2 linked regions of the Homo sapiens genome follow. The protein of the gene in region 1 purifies or fractionates together with the protein of each later gene. This does not show direct contact. Each region holds a gene or a part of one and is shown on either strand. Other genes may lie near its edges.

Region 1 (9,121 bases):
GAGGTCAGGAGATCAAGACCATCCTGGCTAACACAGTGAAACCTTGTCTCTATTAAAAATACAAAAAATTAGCCAGGCATGGTGGCGGGCGCCTGTAGTCCCAGCTACTTGGGAGGCTGAGGCAGGAGAATGGTGTGAACCCCGGAGGCGGAGCTTGCAGTGAGCCGAGATCGCGCCACTGCCTCCAGCCTGGGTGACAGAGCGAGACTCCATCTCAAAAAGTAAAATAAAATAAAATTTTGTTGCCAAGCAACTCTTCATTGCTGTGACTTCTCTGTACCAATTTTCGGACTAGAGGTGGACAAGAGGCATGGGTGGGGTGTAAAAGGTCTAATTATACCAAGTTGCCAACCTTGTTTTCCTTTCTGGAAGGAGGAGTTGGGAAAACTCTCCCAACTCATGGGCAAGAGGAGGCAGGTTAAAGAGCCCGGTTTGGGCCAGGTGTGGAGGCTCATGCCTGTAATCCCAGCACTTTGGGAGGCCGAGGTGGGAGGATCCCTTGGGCCCAGGAGTTCAAGCCCAGCCTGAGCAAGGTGGTGAGATGCTATCTCTTGAATAAGTAAATAAAATAATAAATAGCCCTGTTTGACAGCCAGCCCCTCCTGCCTTAGCCTCAGCCTGCACTAAGCAGCTAGGAGACAGAGGCCTTCCATGGGCATGGGCTTGGCACTCCTCTGGGGGGAAGCGTTAATCTCCTTTTCCCAAAGAGGCTGATCCCATGGATTCCAGTTTTGTTGTTGTTGTTGTCGTCGTTTTAGAGACATGGTCTCACTCTGTCACCAAACTGGAGTGCAGTGCAGTGGTGTGATCATGGCTCACTGCAGCCTCGATCTCCTAGGCTTAAGCAGTCCTCCCATCTCAGCCTCCCAAGTAACAGACTACTGGTGCGTGCCACCACGCCTAGCTAATTAACAACATTTTTCTGTAGAGATGGAGTCTTGCTGTGTTCTCCAGACTGGTCTTGAACTCCCGGGCTCAAGTGATCCTTCCCACCTCAGCCTCCCAAAGTGCTGGGATTACAGGTGTGAGCCACAGTGCCCCACTGGATCCCAGTCTTAAGGCTGAAGTGAGTAAGTGCTTTGAGAACTCCATGTTCACTTACCTGCTGATTACAGCAGGGCCCTGTTCTAGAGGCTTTTGTGCCACAAGGCCAGGGCAAGAAGGGGCTAATTCCCCTGCACCCTGGTCCCTTCACATTCCCATTGGGTTTTTCTACCTGAACCTACCATACATTTCCTTCTCTCCCACCTTCCACTCCCTGCTAACTCCCCATCTACACTGGGATCTTCCTGCACCTAAACCCCCACAGCTGGGAGTGGCAGCATGCACCTGTAGTCCCAGCCACTTGGGAGGCTGAGGTGAGAGAATCACTTGAGCCTAGAAGATTGAGACCAGCCTGGGCAACATAGGGAGATTTCGTCTCTAAAAAAATAAAAGCTCCCCTCTGCCCTGGGCCTATTCCCCATTCTTGACACCCATGAGCCCCGGTCCCCCTGCTCAGTCCTGATCAATCCCACGCTCACATCCTGGCTTCTTGTGTGCTTCACTACCCCACAGGCTCTGAGATCCCAGAAGGCAGGCTGGGCATCTGATCACCTGGCCCTGTTCCCTCCAGGTTGAAGTCAAGGCCTCCTTTCTCTGCCCTCAGGAAGCTAACTCTACAGACAAGGGGACTGAATACAGTGGTATCTTGGGACTAAGCTGTTAGGGTACCTAGCTCCTTCAGGTCTGTGTGGCAAGAAGGCAGGGGAGGGGCTAGGCTATGACTCTTGTGTGCCTCAGGGAGGAAGGGGACACCCACCTGCCTTGGCCTCTCTTGGTCTCACCCAGCCTTGCCAGATTCTCAACCCTGGGAACCCAGCTGTGGGTGCCCAGCCAGGCCGTTGATGTGGCAATTAACACACCAAATGGGTGCCAACAGGGTTCATCAAGGCTGCATTTATAGAGGCATCTTTCTCTGAGGACCTCCAGGCTTTGCTTTGTATGATCTAATTCCTCCTCTGGGATCCCCCACCCTGGACTGCCACCAAGAGGCTGGAGCCAGGCAGAGAGTAGGTGAACAGTAGAGTAGGGGCAATGCCGGAAAAAGCCCAGGCTGCTGCCACCCACTTGGGCGGGCGGGTGGATGGATGTTTGCTCTGGCAGAGAACAGGGACCTTCGTTCAATGCACTACACATAAGAGGCCCGCCTGCCATGAGCCAAGTGCTCTGACTGCCAGGGCCTGCTCTGGAGCCCACATCCAGCATGGCAGACCCACATCAACAGCATAGATAGGTGCTTTACAGCGTGCCCCTGAGTCCTTCAGGAGTGCAGATTGGGCAGTGGCTGGAACTATAAGAGTCAGGCAATGGGTTGCTGAAGAGACCTCTCAGAGCAGGTGACCTTAGGGGTAGATCCTCAGGAAGGTGTTGAGGGAATTCTGAGCTAAGGGAATGGCCTGACAGGGAACGGTTGTGGGGAGCCGTGCGTGATGAGGATGCCTACCCTACGTGAGTGGCATGGGGCCAAACCAAGGAATTGGGGGCTTAGTTGAAAAGGGCAGGCCAGGTGCAGTGGCTCACACCTGTAATCCCAGCAATTCAGGAGGCTGACTTGGGAGGACTGCTTGAGGCCAGGATTTGGAGCCCTATTTTAAAAAAATGAAAGGACAGGTATTGGAAGGCAGCAGAAGTTTTTAAGCAAGGGAATTAACCATTTTAGACAGATCATTCCGGCAGCGGAGCAGAAGGGATATGGCCAGAGGAAGAAACACCAGGTGAAAGACTGAGTTGATCCAGGTTTAAGGCATTACATCGAGGGGCTGAACTTGAGACAGTCCCTGAAAATGTAAGAACAGGAGCTAGAACTTGCTTATGGGAAGGGCCTAGGGAGAGGAAGAAATAAAAGATCACTGGGCAAGGTGCTGCTGCAGGGCCAGGAGGCAGGACAGGCAGCGGGAGAAGGGCCAGGAGGAGCCCCAGATGCAGAGGGGACAGACCAGCCCTGCCTGCAGGCCGCTGTGCACTGAGTGAGCTCAGGGTGAGCAGAGCTTTTGAGCCCTCCCCTTCCCCAGCTTGGCAGGCACACCAGCTTGTGTGGTTTCACGGCTTCATTCCTCCCCCTAGAGGCTCCTGGAAGCACAGCTGCTTTCTCCTAAGAGTGAACAGGTCTGTGGCTTAAACATCTTAGGTCCATTCCCAGAGTTTCCAGCTCAACCCCTTGGCTCTCCTCAGGCCGGCCATGTGAGCCCCCTTAGCAGCTGGGTTAAAAAAATAAATCAAGGATGATTGAAGGTGCTGGGAGCTGTGGCTCACGCCTGTAATACCAACACTTTGGGGGGCCGAGGCGGGCAGATCGCCTGAAGTCAGGAGTTTCAGACCAGCCTGGCCAACATGGCGAAACCGACTACTAAAAATACAAAAATCGGCCGGGCGCGGTGGCTCACGCCTGTGATCCCAGCACTTTGGGAGGCCGAGGCGGGCGGATCACGAGGTCAGGAGATCGAAACCATCCTATTCTTGGCTAATACGGCGAAACCTTGTCTCTACTAAAAATACAAAAAATTAGCCAGGTGTGGTGGCAGGCGCCTGTGGTCCCAGCTACTCGGGAGGCTGAGGCAGGAGAATGGCGTGAACCCGGGAGGCGGAGCTTGCAGTGAGCCGAGGTCGCGCCACTGCACTCCAGCCTGGGTGACAGAGCGAGACTCCATCTCAAAAAAAAAATAATAATAAATAAAAATACAAAAATCAGCTGGGCATGGTGGCATGCACCTATAATCCCAGCTACTCAGGCAGCTAAGGCAGGAGAATCACTTGAACCCCAGGAAACGGAGGTTTCAGTGAGCCGAGATCACCCCACTGCACTCCAGACTGGGTGACACCATGAGAAAAAAAAAAAAAGGATGATTGAAGGCAGTTTCTACAGACTAGTCTGTCCTGCTTGGAGAATGGGGGAGGCTGCCAGGTGGCTGCAGCAGCTGAAGGCAAAAAGTGTACCATCTTTTTTTTTTTTTCTTCTTTTTTTAAGAGATGGAGAGGCAGGGGGTGGTGGCTCACGCCTATAATCCTAGCACTTTGGGAGGCCGAGGCGGGCAGACCACGAGGTCAGGAGTTCGAGACCAGCCTGGCCAACATGGTGAAACCCTAAATTAAATCTCTACTAAAAATACAAAATTTAGCTGGGCATGGTGGCGGGTGCCTATAATCCCAGCTACTCAGGAGGCTGAGGCAAGAGAATCGTTTGAGCCCGGGAGGCGGAGGTTGCAGTGAGCCAAGATCGTGCCATTGCACTCCAGCATGGGAGACAGGGTGAGACTCTGTCTCAAAAAAAAAAAAAAAAAAAAAAAAGATATAGGTCTCACTGTGTTGCCCAGGATTGTCTCAAACTCCTAGGCTCAAGCAATCCTCCTGTCTTGGCCTCCCAAAGTGCTAGGATTACAGGCATGAGCCACCATTCTTGGCCCAAAGCACACCATCTATGTGGGGTCCTGGCTCTGCCTCTCACAAACTGTGACCTTGAGCCAGTAGATTACTTTGTTAAGCCTTAAATTCCTCATCTGTAAAACAGAGATAAGACCACCCATCTCAGGGGCATTCAACTGTGATAATTTCATTTATTGTCCAAACCAAGTTTACTAATTATTGGGTGGGCTGGGAAGTATGATCCCCTGGGTGAAGGTGGATATGAATGTGATTTAAACACCGTGAAACTCTGTGCATATGTACAGAGTTATTGCTGTTACTGCAGATGCTGGGAAGAGCTGCTCACCTTCTCAGTAACTCTGCCTTGACCTCCCCTTACCTCCTGTGCTGAGGTCAGCCCTCTCTCCTCCACGTGGGCCAATGGTGGCTCCTGCCCTCCAGCCAACATCAGAGAGGCTGGAGGCACCTTGTCTTCCTCCCAGCCCTGCCCATCTCCATGACTGACCTTTTTGCGCACCCTGGACCTTGCCAACCCAAGATGCTCGCTCTAGAGATGAAGGTGGATGCAGATGCTGGGGTTCGGGGGTGGCCTCAGCTGAGGGCCTGCTGACCAACCAAAGGGTATCGGCAGGGGCAGGGGCTGGCCCTCACCCTGGGCTGGGGGTTGGGCCAGCAGCTTCTCAGCACCAGGATCATGACTCTGAGCAAACCATGTTTACCAGAGCAGCAAAGGACCTATTTATAGCCTCAGCTGCTGCTTTCTCTGGCTCACGGTGGCGGGGGCAGGGTGGCTCCTCAGAGCAAGGGAGGTAGTCGGGTCGAGGGAACCTGGCTCTGCCCAGGTGCCACTGCCCAAACCCCTGGGCCCCATCCATGGCAAGAGAGACCTTCCCCTTCACCTCCTCCATGCTGCGCTCTCTCCGCCTGCAGCAGGAGTGGCTGGAATGGGAGGACCGGCGGCGGGCGGCTGCCCAGCAGTGCCGGAGCCGCAGGTGCCCGTCAAGTCCCCGGGCCCGACTCACTAGGCCTCACCGTTCCTGCCGAGACCCAGCTGTCCACCAAGCCCTCTTCTCCGGCAACCTGCAGCAGGTCCAAGCCCTGTTCCAAGATGAAGAGGCCGCCAACATGATTGTGGAGACTGTGAGCAACCAGCTGGCCTGGTCGGCTGAACAGGGTAGGGGGCACCAGAAGAGGGCAGAAGAGGAGGGAGAAAGAAGGGGAGTGGGTGGGGAAGGGGGAGAGTCTAGGCCCCTCCTTCCCTGCAGACCACAGACTATAGCAGCCCTTTCCACCACCTATCCTAGCTCCCTCCTAAACAGAGATGAGGCAGGGTTAGCAGTCTGTATGTCTTTTAAGAATTAAAAGTTGACCGGGCACAGTGGCTCACGCCTGTAATCCCAGCACTTTGGGAGGCCAAGGCAGGCGGATCACGAAGTCAGAAGTTTGAGACCAGCCTGACCAACATGGTAAAACCCCATCTCTACTAAAAATAGAAAAATTAGCCGGGCATGGTGGTGCGCACCTGTAATCCCAGCTACTCAGCAGCTGAGGCAGAAGAATCACTTAAACCCGGGAGGCGGAGCTTGCAGTGAGCCAAGATAGCGCCACTGCATTCCAGCCTGGGGGACAGAGCGAGACCCTGCCTAAAAAAAAAAAAAAAAGAGACAAGGTCTCACTATGTTGCCCAGGCTCATCTCGAACTCCTGAGGTCAAGTGATCATCCCGCCTTGGCCTCCCAAAGTGCTAGGATTACAGGTGTGAGCCACCACCCCAGGCCCCAAGGTGAACAAGCCTTTGACACTATTAGCCATTCAAAGACGCTGAGATTTCCTTAATGGGAGTCACTCTACTTAGTTGGCCCCTGTGGTTTTATACAGCAATTAATTTTTTTATGACACATACTATGTTTTGTTACAGATTGATAAGCTGTATTAAAAGGCTGTTCCAATTTATTCTTCCACTTCAGGACTTGAATAAGCCCCCTTCCACAGGTACAGCCTGGCAGTGTTTGTGCTCAGCAAACCATGCAGAGGGAAGGCCAGTGTCAGCTGTCAGCTGGAACCAGCATCCCCACTCCCTGCCCTGCCCTGTCTTATACACCACCTCCCAAAACTATTTGCTCTCCCTAGGGTTCTGGGTGCTGACCCCCAAGACCAAGCAGACGGCACCCCTCGCCATCGCTACAGCCCGAGGCTACACAGACTGTGCTCGACACCTGATCCGGCAGGGAGCTGAGCTGGATGCCCGTGTCGGGGGTCGCGCTGCCTTGCATGAGGCCTGTGCCCGAGCCCAGTTTGACTGTGTGCGGCTGCTGCTGACCTTCGGAGCCAAGGCTAATGTGCTGACTGAGGAGGGCACGACTCCTTTGCACCTCTGCACGATCCCCGAGTCCTTGCAGTAGGTGCCTGGGGGCTGAGACAGTTTGGGGAGAAATGTGTGTGTGTGTCTCCAGCTCACAAGGCCAGAAGAGGGAACCTGACAACCACATGCAGCTTTGTGGTTCATAAAGCACCGCATATACACATCTTCACAATAACCTGGAGACACCTCATCCTACAGATGAGAAAAATGAAGCTCAGAAAGGCTTAGTAACTTGTCCAAGGTCACATCTGCTAAGCCCAGGAGGCAGAAGCCCTGTTGCTTTTTGGGAAAACTCTGTTCCAACTGCAGTCTCCAATACCCTGTGAATCCTTTGTAGCCAAACCTAGCTGTTTTTTTTTGTTTTTTGAGACGAAGTCTTGCTCTGTTGCCCAGGCTGTAGTGCAGTGGCGTGGTCTCAGCTCACTGCAACCTCTGCCTCCTGGGTTCAAATGCCTCAGCCTCCCAAGTAGCTGGAATTACAGGTGTGTGCCACCACACCTGGCTAGGTTTTGCATTTCTAGTGGAGATGGGGTTTTGCCATGTTGGCCAGGCTGGTCTTGAACTCCTGTCCTCAAGTGATCCACCCACCTTGGCCTCCCAAAGTGCTGGGATTACAGGCGTGAGCCACCATGCCCAGCCCAAATTCCTAGTTGTTTTGAGGTATTAAGAAAGATCTGGCCAGGTGTGGTGGCTCACACCTGTAATTCCAGCTACTAGTAGGTCGAGGCACAAGAATCGCTTGAACCCGGGAGGCAGAGGTTGCAGTGAGCCGAGATTCTGCCACTGCACTCCAGCGAGACTGTCTTAAAAAAAAAAAAAAAAAAAAAAAAGCCGGGCGCCATGGCTCACGCCTGTAATCCCAGCACTTTGGGAGGCTGAGGCGGGTGGATCACGAGTTCAGGAGTTCAAGACCAGCCTGGCCAACATAGTGAAACCCCGTCTCTATTAAAAATACAAAAAATTAGCCAGGCTGGGCATGGTGGCTGGCGCCTGTAATCCTAGCTACTCGGGAGGCTGAGGCAGGAGAATCGCTTGAACCCGGGATGCAGAGGTTGCAGTGAACCGAGATTGTGCCACTACACACTAGCCCCTGCAACAGTTGAGACTCCATCTCAAAAAAAAAAAGACCTATGGGCCAGATTCAGTGGCTCACACCTGTAATCCCAACACTTTTGGAGGCGGAGGCAGGAGGATTGCTTGAGTCCAGGAGTTTGAGAATAGTTTGGGCAACGTAAGTGAGGTTTTTGTCTCTACTAAAAATAAAAACTAGCCGGGTATGGTGGCATGAGCCTCTAGTCCTAGCTACTCGGGAGGCTGAGGCAGGATGATCTTTTGAGCTCAGAAGTTCAAGACCAGACTGGGAAACATAGTGAGACCCTGTCTCTACAAAAAATAAAATTAGCCGGGCATGGTGGTGTGCATTGTAGTCCCAGCTACTCAGGAAAAGCATTTGAGCCCAAGAGGTCTAGGCTTCAGTGAGCTATGATCATGCTGCCACTGTACTCCAACCTGGACAACAGGGCGGGACCCTGTCTTAAAAAAAAGTGGGAAGAGAGGTATGGGGGTGCCTCACACCGATGTTAGGAAACACAGGGCTAGATTTTTTTTTTGGAGACAGGGTCTCACTCTGTTGCCCAGGCTGGAGTGCAGTGGCACAATCATGACTCACTTGCAGCCTCGATCTCCTGGGCTCAAGTGATCCTCCTGCCTCAGCTTCCAGGGTAGCCGGAATCACAGGCCAGTGCTACCACACCTGGCTATTTTTTTTTTTTTTTTTTTTGAGACGGAGTCTTGCTCTGTCTCCCAGGCTGGAGTGTAGTGGCCCGATCTCGGCTCACTGCAAGCTCCGCCTCCCGGGTTCCCGCCATTCTCCTGCCTGAGCCTCCCGAGTAACTGGGACTACAGGCTCCCGCCAACACGCCCGGCTAATTTTTTTTTTCTGTATTTTTAGTAGAGATGGGGTTTCACTGTGTTAGCCAGGATGGTCTTGATCTCCTGACCTCGTGATCCACCCGCCTCGGCCTCCCAAAGTGCTGGGATTACAGGCGTGAGCCACCGCGCCCGGCCCAACTGGCTATTTTTTAAAAAGTATTATTTTTAGTAGAGACATAGACTCTCTATGTGGCCCAGGCTGGTCTCCGACTCCTGAGCTCAGGCAATCCTCCTGCCCCAGCCTCCCAAAGTGTTGGGATTATAGGCATGAACCAATACACCAACCCTCCCACTTTTTTTAAGGTTGGCAGTTTCTTGGAGTCCCTGCATGAGGGTATTTGCACTTTCACAATCAGGTCAACAGACAGGGTGGCAGGTAAGGATTCAAGGGCTTCTGGAAGACTCTCCACTGCCCACAAGCTGGGGA
Region 2 (8,210 bases), on another chromosome or scaffold:
AGGAACTCCTCTCTTGTAAATCAGAGGAACTGCGCGTAATGTCTGAACGTGTGCAGGAAAGCATGTCTTCAGAGATGCTGGCTCTTCAAATTGAGCTGACAGAAATGGAGAGTATGAAGGTAATTTTTATGGCATGTGTTTCTCAGGGTTTTCTCTTTTTTTTTCTGGCATATTTTTACATGTTTTGGTAATAATTCTTAAGAGCTAGTTTGAAGGCTGAAACATTTTTTGACCTAACTTGCATCTAACTAATTAAAAAATGGGTTTTTTTTAGGTGGATGACTTCATTCATAATATAGCTTTAGACTATATGATTATGTAAGGCAGCCTTTCTCTTAGATTAATGAAACGTCTGGAAGAATTTAGAGGCATATACTCTGATCCCAGATTTTATCGTAAGAGCCCAGTGTAAAACGTTGGCTCAGTGGAAGTTGAAATGCATGTGAACTTGGTTTTTTCATTGAAAGCTAAGGTTAATTAAAAATTAAAGCCTGAAATTGATAGAGGAAAAAGGGCAGTCTCTAAAGCCATTTGTTTCCTTGTTGAAAAATTTAACAGTAATAGTAATTTCTATTATTTTAGAATGTACCTGACAACTTTTGACTGGTTCTTTAGTTTTAATTTTGGATGTGAACCACAACTGAGATAAACTGAGCAGCTGCCAAATGAAAGATTATTCAAGAGAATTTCCTCCTTTTCAATTCCTGTTAAATAGACCACCCTCAAAGAAGAAGTGAATGAACTACAATACAGACAAGAACAGCTAGAACTTCTTATTACTAACCTAATGCGCCAGGTAGACCGGCTTAAAGAGGAAAAAGAGGAGCGAGAGAAAGAAGCAGTTTCTTACTATAATGCCCTAGAGGTACTATGATTACAGTAACATCATGTTTTCCAATTTATCATAACTTATTTTCTTGCTAATGTAATCTCTGTTGCCTAAATTGTTTTCTTTTGAATTTAGAAAGCTCGTGTAGCAAATCAAGATCTTCAGGTACAGTTGGACCAGGCACTCCAGCAAGCCTTGGATCCCAATAGTAAAGGCAACTCTTTGTTTGCAGAGGTACTTATAAGTATCCTAACTACTAAATTGGTATTTTCATTTACTACCAGAACAATTAAGCATGTTAATATTTTGTAGGTGGAAGATCGAAGGGCAGCAATGGAACGTCAGCTCATCAGTATGAAAGTCAAGTATCAGTCACTAAAGAAGCAAAATGTATTTAACAGAGAACAGATGCAGAGAATGAAGGTATAGAACTTTCACTATCAAAGGTTTATTAAACAAATTTTGTGTCAGCATTACATGTATGAATACATCAAAGAAACTAGCTTTTTCTGCAAGGAGTGTACTTATATAGTTGTTTCTAGAACTGCATGATTTCAAAAAATCAATTTTGAAATTAAAAGATTCATTTATAGTTTAAAAATCTTGGAATAAATATTTAGTAATAGTATATTTAGCAATGATTATTGTTTGTTTTAATGGTTACTCACTAGCTTTGACTTAAATCTTTCTTTGTGGAGTAGAAGAAAGAAAAGTATTTATTTCTTATTCTTGGCCTGATGTCTTTCCAAGCATAGCCCTAGGGTTCCTACTTCAGCTGAAACTCGCTGCCTCACCATTCCTCTGCTCTTTCACCAAGGCTTATTATGGAGTGAAATTTGGATTATTCAGGGTTCCCTTTCCTTGTAGCTCCTCAAGTCAAGCACATAGACCCTTTTAATTTTACGGGTTTTGTTGGTTGTCATTCTAGCCAAATAAGAGGTAGCAGAAAAACATGTGGGAATTAGAAAGATTTCAGTATTGTAACAGTCCTTAGAATCCTGATCCCTCATCCATTGTGCCTCACTCTACTGAGGTAGTAATTGGAATCTGGAAAGGCTTCCTTCCTTTTATTCAGAATCATGGGCTTTGCCAAAGAAATGGGAAAGGTTAATGATTAAATTTGGGAGTTAGGTGGATTTGGGTTTGAATCATAGTTTTGTCACTTGCTAGCTCTGTGACCTTGGACAAGTATTTTAACTTTGAAAGCAACAGTACCTCATCTATTAAGTGAAGATGATAGAACCCCCTCTTAGAATTGTCCTACAGTTAAATGAAAGTGTAGTAAAATACTTAACCTGCTACTTGGCAAATGAGTGTTTAATGAACAACAGCTGTGAATTTTATTTCTAAGGGTTTCCAGACTGTGCTGCCTCATTTCCTGAGACTCTCCCCTGTCTGGGAAGTATTTCTTTATAAATTTTCTCACGTTTACTTTAGTTTTCTTACAGTATTTGTTGGGGTTACTTTTAATCTACCAATGTTGCATATGTCCCAAACTATCTTTAGAGACTAGAAGCATTCTGAGTCTTAGGCTAAGTGGGCCTAGCCTCCAATCTGAAACAGGAACAAAAAGGATATCCTTTAAAATGTTAAAAGTCATCTGCAACCTCATATCATTGATTGTTTTACTCAAAACTATATTTAAACTAATAGGCACTCTTTTCAACTCCAGAAATTTCCAAAGGCAGAAAGAAATGCTAGATTTAGAGTCTACTTAATTTCCCTCTGGTAGCTTCACAACTCCAGATTTGGGGTGGGGGAGGTATAATGAGGTAAGTTGAGTGCTGCTCTAAAAAAATTAAAACATGGTATATTGAAGATTACCCCAGTATACTAAGATAGCCTTTTATCTTTGCTTTTAACGTCATTTGTGAATCTAACATTTGTGGCTGTCAGTAGCTTAGTTTTCCTCACTTAATTAAAGTTAATTAAAAATTTTGAGAAACCCATCAGAACCTTAATAAGAGCGAGTGCTTATGATAAGCAGTCTGCAGCGTTTGGCCAGGCTTACTTACCAGTTCAGTGGTGTGCTTTCAGACCACAGCCATGCAAGTCAGTTTTATGTTTCACAAAAGTACAAATAATTACATTACAGACTTCAGTTATCATTCATAAGTAGTCAAAATAAGTATTCAAATGTTATGTCTACAAAAAAATTTATTATTAGATTAGAAATAGCTAATTTAGTTTCCAAAATGAGTTCAAAGTAATATAGTACAAATTATGAATTGTATCAAAAAAGTAGTTATCAGAATCTTTCTCTCACTTAATTTTATTAGAGGGGGTAATTTTATTTTTCTAGTTACAAATTGCCACGTTGCTACAGATGAAAGGGTCTCAAACTGAATTTGAGCAGCAGGAACGGTTGCTTGCCATGTTGGAGCAGAAGAATGGTGAAATAAAACATCTTTTAGGTGAAATTAGAAATCTGGAGAAATTTAAGGTATGTATAACAGTTAAAAAAACACACATCCAAATTTTGATTTGAATATCTTAAAATTTGGTTTGTTTTTTAAGTTTAAATTATTAATAAATATCTTGTGGGAGATACTTTGAGACTAAGTAAATGGCTGTTTCTCCTTATACTTAAACATCCATTGGTGATTCTTGCCTGAAACATAATTCTGTGATGATTGCTAAATGGGTAATTCCATCACTTCTTCTATATTTATTAGTTGGAATTTTAGTAAAGGGACAGAAAAGAAAAATCTTTTTCCTCACTTACTCATTCATTTATATCAGTATAGCCTCATGGATTCTTATTTTATCCTATGAGTTATAATCCATTGCTTGCTTTATTTACTCTGATACTCAAATTGTCCCAGATTTGATAGTCGAAGTGCTCTTACTTGAATATTTCCTTACTCTATGGCACAACAAGGGTTTCCTAGCTCACCTGGCCCACTTCTGGGATTAGCATTTCTTCAAGGAACATTGGTTTATTTTAGTTGAGAATGGTATTTGTGTAAGCATTTGTGTGTGTGTGTGTGTGTGTGTGTGTGTGTGTGTAAGAATTCACCCATGTTTTCTAAATAAGTAGGCAGTTGTCCCAGAGTCATTTGTTAAAAAATCAATCTTGATCCCAGTGATTTGAGTTGACACCTTTATCATACATCAAGTTTCCATATATACTTGAGTCTGTTTCTAAATTTTCTGTCTACGCCATTGGTCTGCTTCTCTGTGTGTCTGTACCACACTGTTTTATTAATTATAAAGGCTTTTAAGTATGTTTATCTGGTAGGACTATTTCCTCACTATACTTTTTATTTTTCAGTATTTTCCTGTCTATTTTTGAATGTTAGCTTTCATTTACAAACATCTTGTCTAGCACCAAAAAAAGCTTGTTGGCTTTCTATTAAAATTGCATGCAATTTAAGATTTTATAAATTGACTTAGGGAACATTGATATCTTCATTAACCTCCTAATGAACTAAAGTTCTAAATGACAAATTTTTGTAAATGTTAATAACCTCTTAGGCATTCTAAATTGTAGCCATTAGTATGTCATAAAATCTTAATTAAGTTTACATAACTTTATTTCTGTGTCTTATAAAAACTGTTGAAAGAACTACAAATTTGGTTAAGTTGGCAGCCTTATGTTTCCATCAGTGGGCTCAGAACTATACTCTGAAAATTATGGCCTTAAATCAGGGGAATTTTATTTATAACCTGAAATTGTTTCAAGTTTTTAAGCAGATTTACCTTTTCTATCCCACTAGAGAAATGTATAGTTTCCATCAGTCTCAGAAGAGCTTGCACTACATTCTTGCCTGGGGTGGGGGGAAGAATCTCAGAAGAGGGGGACACCAGATATAAATGTAAGGCTCTCATCTTCCTTTCATATTTTTCCAGTTTATGGTTTTGTTACAAAGGCCAGAATTTAATCCAGCAGGCATTTGTTTTTCTATTTTCAAAGCCAGGAGAGAGAAGGCAGAGCATGTAGGTAAGGCTAGAAGCCTAGGCCTTGTAGTCAGATTTGGGTTCAGGTTCTCTCTTCTTGGTTTACTTTCATCTGTATTCGGAGCCTGTTTCCTTATCTGTAAGAGAGGAATGTTAATTATTTACCTACTTCAGAAGGCAGATAAATTAAATGGGTAGTTCTTAGCGTAGTACGCCAAGGGATATAAATTCAGGAAGTGATGGTGCTATTATTAATAAACATACACTAACCTTATTTGTTATTTATTTTAAGTAATACAAACTTTTGCTTTTTTAAGAATTTATATGACAGTATGGAATCTAAGCCTTCAGTCGACTCTGGTACTCTGGAAGATAACACCTATTATACAGATTTACTTCAGATGAAGCTGGATAACTTAAAGTAAGTGTCTGGGTTGGTGGATGGAAAGATGAACATGTCACTTGCTTACTATGGTAGTGTCAGTGACTACAAAGTTTTTTTGAAATTGCCAAAGGAAATTTTCCGAAAAGAAAGGTAACAAAAATATCTTTGTGCAGATATTCATGTGTGAATACATTTGAAAGACTATTTCCTCCTTTGTCCATTTCCTTTCAAGAATGCATGAGTATTTTTTAAATTTAACACTACTATTGTTAAGGATTATTTAAATTGTTTATTGTTTCTTTGTTACTAAAAACCCCAGAAAAATGTATTTTTAACTAAGAATTCAAATATGCGATGAAATATTTATACCACTACACTTATTATATGCTGTCTTAATACTCGTTGGTTCTCCTTTTTTATTATCATAGCAAAGAAATTGAAAGCACTAAAGGTGAATTGTCCATACAGCGAATGAAAGCATTATTTGAGAGCCAGCGGGCTCTAGATATTGAGCGAAAACTTTTTGCAAATGAAAGATGCCTCCAGCTTTCAGAAAGTGAAAATATGAAACTGAGAGCTAAACTAGATGAATTGAAACTAAAATATGAACCTGAAGGTATATATGTCTCATATATTTTTGTCTTTTAAATTATGAGTAACCTGAAATTATATCAAATTATTTTCTTACTGTAGTTTTATGCAACTCTATTACAAACTCATTTGTAGTTATATACCTATAGTTAATAAAGCAAATTTATTGTGTAAAATAGGTAGGAAAATTCAGGGAGAACTGGATACTGGGTGTGCCTGAATATAACATGTATCCTTTTTGGATATCTAATTTCATCATACTGTATAGTAGAAACTTGAGATTTGAGACTTTCCCATTTTAAGATTACAGTATTTTATGTCATACCTAATAGTTTAATTATGTTGAAGCAGCTGATGTTTGGAAGCTATACGAGGTAGGACTGTTTATAGAAAATCTAAAGTAATGGAGACTTTAAAAAGGTGGGTCTTTATCTCTGCCTCTGATGGAAGTCTGGAGGAGGCCTTCCAGGACTGGGAAAGCACTCCACGGTATCAAGATTCAGGCTTCTTGTGTTTGTTGGTCTGCTGCCATCCTGTGGAGCAGAATTTAGTCATGCAGCCTCACCTGCTGACAGGAAGGGCTGAGAAATGCAGTCTTGATTCTCAGGGGCCATGTTCCTAACTAAATATTGGGAATTCTTTTATTAAGGAAGAACAGTGAGCCAGGCGTGGTGGCTCGTGCCTGTAATCCCAGCTCTTGGGGAGGCAGAGGGAGGAGGATAGCTGTGCCCAGGAATTTGAGATTTGCTTGGGCAATATAGCAAGACCCCATTCTCCACCAAAATGGGGGGGAAAGGAAAGAACAATGAAACATATTAGGGAATATCTAGCAAGTCTAATGACTGAGCTGGAAAGTAGCCTAACCATACAGTCTCTGCATCTTATATACTACAGAGAGTGAAGTTTACTGTATGTAAATTCAAAAACAAAAGGCCAAGTGTGAAGGAGTCTAAGAATGTGATGGTTCTACAACACCCCTTCCCTAAAAGAGTGTTACATGTTTTAGGTTAAGGATTCTCAACAAGTTTTTGTCCCCGCACTCTGCACATGCCTCAGTCTCTCTTCGTATTGTCTCAGTGAACTGCTATGATTCTCAACAATAGTGGGGAGGTTGCCAAAAATAGGAAGGTTTTTACACAATTTTAAAAGGCTTCTCTTGCTCTTAACTCTTTTTGTTTCTTCCATGATTCTAATAGGCTCCCCTGATTAAGAATTATCCATTATGAATTTCAAACATCTGTTGAACTGAACACAGCAAATAGACAGGAGGCAGGGTAGTGAATCCTGATAATGTGGGTTTCAAAGGAGCAGTGCCAGAAAAAGGGGAAATCATGGTCTAAAAGCAACAATGTAGAGCAAAAACAGCAACCCCTTGTGCTACCAGTGTTCCTCAGACTCCACTAACATTTTGATTTTGAAAATGAAACACATCGATAATGGGCATAGGGAAAAGATATTAGAGCAGTTAATTCAGTGGCTGTGTTTATGACCTGTTTAGATAGAATGATATTAGGCCATGAGGATAGAAGGCATTGCAGTAGTCTTTGATGAGACATGATAGGATTGGACTAGGGAAGTATCCATCATAAAAGTAGTCTGATTCTGCTTATATTTTGTAGGTAGAGCTAACAGGCATATATTACCAATATTCAGAAAGTTTGGCCTATTCTTGTCATTTAATCCTTCTAATACACAATACCAAGTGAAGTGGGTGCTTTTAATCCCCATTTTACAGATAAAATGAAGCTCAGAGAGGTTAAATAATTCCCCAAAGACATGGCTGTCACATACGAGGATTAGGATTCGAACCTGGACTCTGCCGCTGTCTCTTCATCTCCACACTGAGATCTTATGAACCACCTTTTTCAAAACACCAAGAGAGAACAGTGAAGCATTCATGCCTAAAGTCAAAATATTGAATTCCCAAGGAAAAATATATAGCCAAATAAACTTTAAAATATATAGTTTATATAGATTCCATGATAAAGAATAAAAGGTAGAAACAAAGGATGCATTTCAGTGAGGAGATGGTTGCATTTTAAAAGAATGGAAAAAGGTATACATATAACTAGTTCTGGCTTCTTGTGTTGATTGTGTCTTTGTTTTCTTAGATTTTTTCTTTTCCCCACTCGTTTTTATTCTCAGAGACAGTTGAAGTGCCTGTACTGAAAAAGAGGCGTGAGGTGCTCCCTGTGGATATAACCACCGCTAAAGATGCATGTGTCAACAACAGTGCTCTCGGGGGAGAAGTTTATCGATTACCGCCTCAGAAAGAGGAGACACAGTCCTGCCCTAACAGTTTAGAAGATAACAACTTGCAATTAGAAAAATCAGTTTCTATATACACACCAGTAGTCAGTCTCTCTCCTCACAAAAATCTGCCCGTGGATATGCAGCTGAAGAAGGAAAAGAAATGTGTGAAACTCATAGGAGTTCCCGCTGACGCTGAGGCCTTAAGTGAAAGAAGTGGAAACACCCCTAACTCTCCCAGGTCAGTGTCCTCTT

Evidence for each region.
Region 2: the proteins of ASB16 (region 1) and SPDL1 purify together in Homo sapiens (affinity purification with mass spectrometry; 2 studies listed by BioGRID and IntAct, with this or other methods). This does not show direct contact.

The regions. Positions count from the first base shown.
Region 1 is NC_000017.11:44,165,516-44,174,636, forward strand, and holds the start of ASB16 (ankyrin repeat and SOCS box protein 16), read left to right. Parts: upstream 1-5,188; 5' UTR 5,189-5,274; coding exon 5,275-5,575; intron 5,576-6,530; coding exon 6,531-6,798; intron 6,799-9,121. UniProt on the Homo sapiens protein: May be a substrate-recognition component of a SCF-like ECS (Elongin-Cullin-SOCS-box protein) E3 ubiquitin-protein ligase complex which mediates the ubiquitination and subsequent proteasomal degradation of target proteins.
Region 2 is NC_000005.10:169,593,430-169,601,639, forward strand, and holds part of SPDL1 (protein Spindly), read left to right. Parts: coding exon 1-119; intron 120-715; coding exon 716-865; intron 866-964; coding exon 965-1,063; intron 1,064-1,141; coding exon 1,142-1,252; intron 1,253-3,131; coding exon 3,132-3,272; intron 3,273-5,046; coding exon 5,047-5,150; intron 5,151-5,542; coding exon 5,543-5,730; intron 5,731-7,850; coding exon 7,851-8,196; coding exon of another isoform or gene 8,197-8,210. UniProt on the Homo sapiens protein: Required for the localization of dynein and dynactin to the mitotic kintochore.